2 linked regions of the Homo sapiens genome follow. The protein of the gene in region 2 purifies or fractionates together with the protein of the main gene of each other region. This does not show direct contact. Each region holds a gene or a part of one and is shown on either strand. Other genes may lie near its edges. The genes, in order: PREPL and TEX30.

Region 1 (3,830 bases), on a different chromosome or scaffold from region 2:
ACTTGTATATCCAACTGACTACCCAACATTTTTACTTAGATGTCTAATATGCCAAAAAATGTCCGAATCTGAACTTTAAATCTCCCCATATATCCCTCGCCCTATTAAAAAAAAAAAAAACAAAACCCTGTTCTCCAGGCAATCTTTCCAATTTACATAAATGACAAATCTGTCCTCCCAGCTACTCAGGCTTAAAAACATTACAGTTGGATTTGTCTTTTTCTCTTGCCACAAACAACTGGTCTGCTAAATCCTCTCAATTCTACTTTCAACATATATTTAGAATCTGACCACTTCTCACACTTGGACTGGACTACTTGGCTAGTATCATCATCATTTCTCCCTTGGATTACTGCAAAAGCCCAAAAGCTTTCTCTGCTTCTGCGCTTGCCTCCTGGTCTATTTTCAACAAAGGAGCTTGTGTGAGTCTGAAGTCAGATTATGTTACTCCACTCAAAACCCTCCAGTGGTTTCCCATCTTGCTCAAGAGGAAAAGCAAAAATTCTTACAATGGTCTACAAAGTCCTAAAGAATCTTGTCCCATTACATTGCTGACCTAATCTACTGCTACACGCCAAGCCCACTTATTCCAGTTAATCCATACTTGATGTTTCTTGAACATATCAAGCTTGCTCCCATATCAGTTTCTTAGAACTTGGGCCCTATGCCCAAATACCTCCTTAAAGCTATTGCTCAAATGTCATCTTCTAAGTTAGGCCTTTCCTAACCATTTTACTAAAATAACACCCCTCCCTATCCCCACACTGCCTATTCACATCTTCCCCGTCTTTTTTTTCTTTTCTTCTTCGCCATAACTATCGCTTTTGACCCACTTTGTATTTCATTCATGTAATTCTTTTTATTTTTTTGAGAGATGAGGACTTGCTTGTGTCCACCTCAGCTGGAGTGCAGTGGCATGATCTCGGCTCATTGCAACCTCTGCCTCCTGGGCTCAAGCAATTGATCCTTGATCTCAGCTCTCAAGTAGCTGAGACTACAGGCGCCACCATGCCCAGCTAATTTTTGCATTGTTTGTAGAGACAGGGTTTTGCCATGTTGCCCAGGCTGTTCTTGAACTTCTGGGCTCAAGCAATGAGCCCACCTCAGCCTCCCAAAGTATATTACAGGCATGACCCATTGCACCTAGCCTTGTTCATGTAATTCTTTATTCTTTCTCTTTTCCTTTCTCAAGTAGGATGGTAAGCTTCACAAAGGCAGGGATTTTTGTTTATTTTGTTCAGTGTTATATCTCCAGTGCCTAGAATGGTGCATAGCAGGTGTTCAACAAATATTTGCTGAGTTGAATAAAATTCAGACAGCATAAAACATAAAATGAAAAAAACATATTTAACAAAAGATATCACAAAGTGAAAAAAATAATAATAGAACAAATATGGAGAAGATATCTACAGCACATATAAAAGACAAAGGACACGTAAAGAAATCTTATGAATCAGTAAGAAAAGGACAGACAATTAAAAGAAGGTCAAAAGACAAGAATAGGCATTCAAGAAGAAAAACTATAGGATCAATAAGTGTAAGAAAAGATGCTCACTGGCCATGAGTGGCAGCTCATGCCTGTAATCCCAGCACTTTGGGAAGCTGAGACAGGAGGATTGCTTGAGCCCAAGAGCTTCAGACCAGCCTGGGCAACATAGCAAGACTCTGTCTCTATTTAAAAAAGTTTTGGATTTTGGAGCATTTCAGATTTTGTATTAGGGATGGTCTACCTGTACTACAAGATATTAAAAAAGAAAGGTACTGTGAATGAGGCTAACTTAGGTCTACTTCTGACTCTACTAGTTTTCTTACTTAACTTTAGGCTCTGTGGCTTTAGTTTCTTCATTTGTTTAGAAAGAATACACACGCTTCCTGATTTTAAGACTTATTACAGGCCAGGCGCAGTGGCTCATGCCTGTAATCCCAGCACTTTGGGAGGCCAAGTTGGGCAGATCACCCTGAGGTCAGGAGTTTGAGACCAGCCTGGCCAACATGGTGAAACCCTGTCTCTACTAAAAATAAAAAAAAAATTAGCTGGGCATGGTGGCAGGCACCTGTAATCCCAGCTACTCGGGGGGCCTTGGCAGGAGAATTGTTTGAATCTGGGAGGCAGAGGTTGCAGTGAGCTGAGATGGCACCACTGCACTCCAACCTGGGCGACAGAGCGAGACTCCATCTCAAAAAATAAATAAATAAATAAATAAAACTTATTACAAAGCTATAGTAATTAAATGTGTAGTACTGGCATAACGACAGACATATACAAAAATGAGATGAAAGTGAGAGTCAAGAATAAACCATTGAATTTATGGTCAGTTGATTTTCAGAAAGGACACCAAGACAATTCAATGGAAAAAGAACACTCTTTTCAACAAATGTTGCTCAGACAATGGATATCCACAAGCAAAATAATAAAGTTGTACCCCAATCCCTTGCACTATAAACAAAATGAACTCAAAATGGGTCATAGGGCTGGGCATGGTGGGTCACACATGTAATGCCAGCACTCTGGGAGGCTGAGGCAGGAGGATTACTTGAGCTTAGGAGTTTGAGACAAGCCCGCACAACAAAGTGAGACCCTGTCTCCACACACACAAAAAATCAAAAAATTAGCTGGGCATAGTTGTGGGCCCAGCTACTTGCAAGGTAAGGCAGGAAGACAGCACGAGCCCAGGAGGTTGAGGCTGCAGTAAGCCATGTTTGTGCCTCTGCACTCCAGCCTGAGCAACAGAGTGAGGCCCTCTCTCAACAACAACAACAACAAAAAAAGTATCAAAGACCTAAAGAAAGAGCTCAGATGGGATGATTTCTGGGGTATGTTTTCTAGCAATAAAATTTATGGTTATATGAAAAGAAAAAATGCATTAATTTAACTATTAATTCATTCTATAAACACGTTGCTTATCTACAATGTGGCAGTCGTTATGCTATGTGCTGGCAAGATGTGTATTATAAAATTCTTGTCTTTAAGGACCTCCCAATATAATGGGGAGACAGGAAAAGTTTAAAATGATGTAGTAATAGCAGAGAGGTAAATATAGTGATTTGACTCCTATGGCTTCAACTACTATCTACATGTAACAACTCTCCCCAAATTCCAGACTCATATATCCAACTGCTACTGAAATCTCCACTTTACTAGTGAGTTATATTTATCCTTTCCTCCTCTCTTTTTTTTTTTTGAGATGGAGCCTCGCTCCCATCACACCAGGCTGGAGTGCAGTGGCACGATCTCAGATCACTGCAATCTCCACCTCCCGGGTTCAAGTGATTCTCCTTCCTCAGCGTCCCGAGTAGCTGGGATTACAGGCATGCGCCACCAGGCCCGGCTAAAATTTTTGGATTTTCAGTAGCAATGGGGTTCTGCCATGTTGGTCAGGCTGGTCTTGAACTTCTGACCTCAGGCAATCCACCCGCCTCAGCCTCCCAAAGTGCTAGGATTATAGGCGTGAGGCGCCACGCCCGGCCTTCTTCACCCTTAAGATCTGAATATCAGTAAGATTACATACATGACTGTGAAATAAGTCCATCTGAAACATAAAGATAAACCAGGTACGTTTTAGAATTTTGAGATTTTGGAATGTTAACTGGGTACCTTATCTCAGTTTACAGGGGAACAACACTCTAATCAAATGCAGTAACATTTTAGAGCTAAACATCTACTAATTGGGATAAAGATCATAATAGCTTTGTGTCAGTTTAGGTCAGGTTTTGCCCATTCTCAACAGCCTCCAATCAGTTAAAAAAAATCATTTGTTTTCTAACAGGCTTTTGGATTTTAGAATCCAAAGAGATGAGGAATTATCACTCAAGCTCTCTAGTCTTCCATT
Region 2 (3,029 bases):
GAATCACTTGAATCCCAGAGGTGGAGGCTGCAGTGAGCCGAGATGGCGCCACTGCACTCCAGCCTGGGTGACAGAGCAAGACTCTGTCTCAAAAAAAAAGCTAAAAATTGATCTTAAATGCTAAAAAAATAAAAGGCAATTATTTTTCTAAAGAACACTTAAAAGGACAAGGACAATCATTGTAAAGGAATCATCATATGCAGGATGATGATTCAGGGATATGAATAAAAGGAGAGAGGCTCAGATTATAATACATATACATGAGGTTCAAGTTTGCTCTAAGTATATAAAGTGCTTTAACATTAAAAAGGTGACTTACCAAAACAACAAAAAAAATCCTTAAATTAGCTTCCTATGATCAACTAATTTTAATTCTCCATTACCTATTCCTATATTAAAACAGGTAATTAACAAGTATTCACAAGTATTGCACTTACCTCCAAGAAAAACACCTGCAAGTTTGTATTCTCCTGATGTCTTCAGGTAATTCTAGAAAAATAAAAAAATCATCAGTTCTTCACCTATAAAATATTCCACTGGAAAGGCAAGATATATTGTTTCTCATCATTACTGAAATGTATGAAAATCTATGCAAAGATAACCAGAAAATCTTAAGGGATTTTTCTTAAAAGAAGTAAGCAGTCCTTCCTCTTCTGGTCATGCCTTCACTATTAAATCACATGTTAGGTAATACAGGCAAATATGTGAGAAAAAAAGTCAATCTACCTTTACTAAAATATTTAAGCACTAAACTATTTTTTAGAGAATTATTTTTTAAAAAGGCCAGCAAAGGCTTCCAACTAATACCAAATTTGATAATGTTAACATCTAAAGTTCTAAAAAACTTATTAGTAAGCTTGAAATTATTTAGATCAGGGGTGTTCAATCTTTTGGTTTCTCTGGGCCACAGTGGAAGAACTGTGTTGTGCCACACATAAAATACACTAACACTCATGACACCTGATAAGCTTAAAAAAAAATTGCAAAAAAAATCTCATAATGTTTTAAGTAAGTTTACAAACTTGTGTTGGGCCACGTTCAAAGCTGTCCTGGGCCATATGTGGCCCATGGGTTGGACAAGCTTGATTTAGAGAAACTTTAGTGTTATCCAGGATTTTAAGCAAGGTTTCTAAATAACATATACAGAAAACAGTATCATATTTATACATGCATAGTATGGTAGATGAAATATTCTAGAATGCCAAAATGATGTGCTAAAGTTACATAATTCCAGGGAGAAAAATCATAAGTAGCTTCCTTGGCAATATCACGGAGGAACATTTATGATGTAAGCATTCATCTCCATGGAAACTGATGACAAGGGAAATCTGACGACTAAAAAGCTTTCATGTACTGCTGAGTTTTCTAAGAATACACTCATTCAAAGATTTTTTAAATTAAACCAGATGACTAATAAAATTTATCTTACATTTATTAAGGATTTCAAACAGAATTCTGTTATAAGTAAATATAAAGAAATTTTCTTACCAAAACTGATTTATACGCCTTAATTCTATGTACAATATTAAGGCCTTTACAGGTAAATCTCAGGCAGAAAAACCCATGAGATGCAAGATGGGATGCCAGTGACATCAAATGAGGAAGATTCATATCTCCTGATGCTCCATGTGTAAGAATTATTCCATATGTTAAGCTCTTGTTAGGTACCAAACAAACAGCATCTAGTAATTTATTTCCAAAAGGTATTTTTAATTTAACCTGGAATTCAAGAGAATAAAGGGATCAAAAATTACTTTCTTGCCTATTAAGACAACTGAACAGCTATATATATGTTTGCTCTGTGAGGCTCATAATTCAAGTCATAGCCTCCAAATAAAAAGTAGTGATATTAATAATAGTAGTTAAGTGCTTACTGTGTCGGGTATTATTATAAGTGCTTTATATGTATTAACTTATTTCACTTTTCTAACAATTCTGTGAGGCAAGCACTATCATTATCCCCATTTTATAGATAAGGCACAGCAGATTAAGTAACTTGCCCAAGGTTATATAGCCGCTAGCTAGGATTTAAACTCAGGGTAGTCTGCTCTAGATTCCTCGCTCTTAACCACTTATGCTATACTGCCTCCCACAGTGAAAGTTGAAAATAAAATTACTCTGAAGCCACATAATTACAAACAAACAAAAAACCAGGAACCCTGAAGATGCAGAACATACGAAAATATTACCTCTGTATGACTCATTTTCACTGTTGAATAACAAACTTAAAGTGCATTTACATCTGAGAAGCAAAGGACATCTCCCTGAAAAGAAGATTCTGTTGTGAAAGGTGAGTTGGCAGACATGGATATGACACAAAAACTATGAATGAACACATTCAGTAGCTAAAATAAACATTTAGAATTACTTCCCTAAAATCTGGTGTCTTTACATGTACATTTTTCTACGGGCACTCAGAATTGGTTAGAGGGCCAGGTGCAGGGTTGGTAGATGTTATAGAAGATAAAACAAAGGTGATACTTTGACATGGAAACTGTAAGGTAATTCATATCAAAGTAGGATGCTGTATCTTGTCAAAATATGGTAATGTAAAATGTATAAATACACATTTTTGTAAGAATCTTCATTCTAAACCAACTATCCTAAACTTAATTTTTCAGCATCTTTCCATTAACCCATTTTCTTCATCATTATAGTTCCCAAGCCTACCCATCCACATCTTGTCATGGAACTTCACAGTGCTGCTAGAAGGCAGAGTATATATGTCTTCACCCTGTTTACTTTGGACTTGGCTACGTAACTTGTTTTAACTAATGGAATGTAGGTAGACATTTCAATGTGTGACTTCTGAGCTGAGGCATGGCAAACTTCCAGAAGCCCTTTTGAACTTTCACCCTCAGCCATGAGAAAAACATGCTCTAGGTGGTTTTGCATTTTCAGCCTGGGTCTCAAAATGAAGACACACGGAACAGAACTGAACCCAAAACTGAAGTCTGGAGTCCAGACTAGTCTAACCAACATCTGACCAACAGCTGATCTGAAGATCCATGAGCATAAAATGTAAGCCA

The links.
Region 1: the proteins of TEX30 (region 2) and PREPL purify together in Homo sapiens (affinity purification with mass spectrometry; one large-scale study listed by BioGRID and IntAct). This does not show direct contact.

The regions. Positions count from the first base shown.
Region 1 is NC_000002.12:44,351,409-44,355,238, forward strand, and holds part of PREPL (prolyl endopeptidase-like), read right to left. Parts: intron 1-3,830. UniProt on the Homo sapiens protein: Serine peptidase whose precise substrate specificity remains unclear. Does not cleave peptides after a arginine or lysine residue. Regulates trans-Golgi network morphology and sorting by regulating the membrane binding of the AP-1 complex.
Region 2 is NC_000013.11:102,767,823-102,770,851, forward strand, and holds part of TEX30 (testis-expressed protein 30), read right to left. Parts: intron 2,265-3,029; 5' UTR 2,205-2,264; coding exon 2,190-2,204; intron 1,720-2,189; coding exon 1,489-1,719; intron 1,382-1,488; exon of another isoform or gene 1,282-1,381; coding exon of another isoform or gene 1,168-1,281; intron 490-1,167; coding exon 438-489; exon of another isoform or gene 404-437; intron 1-403.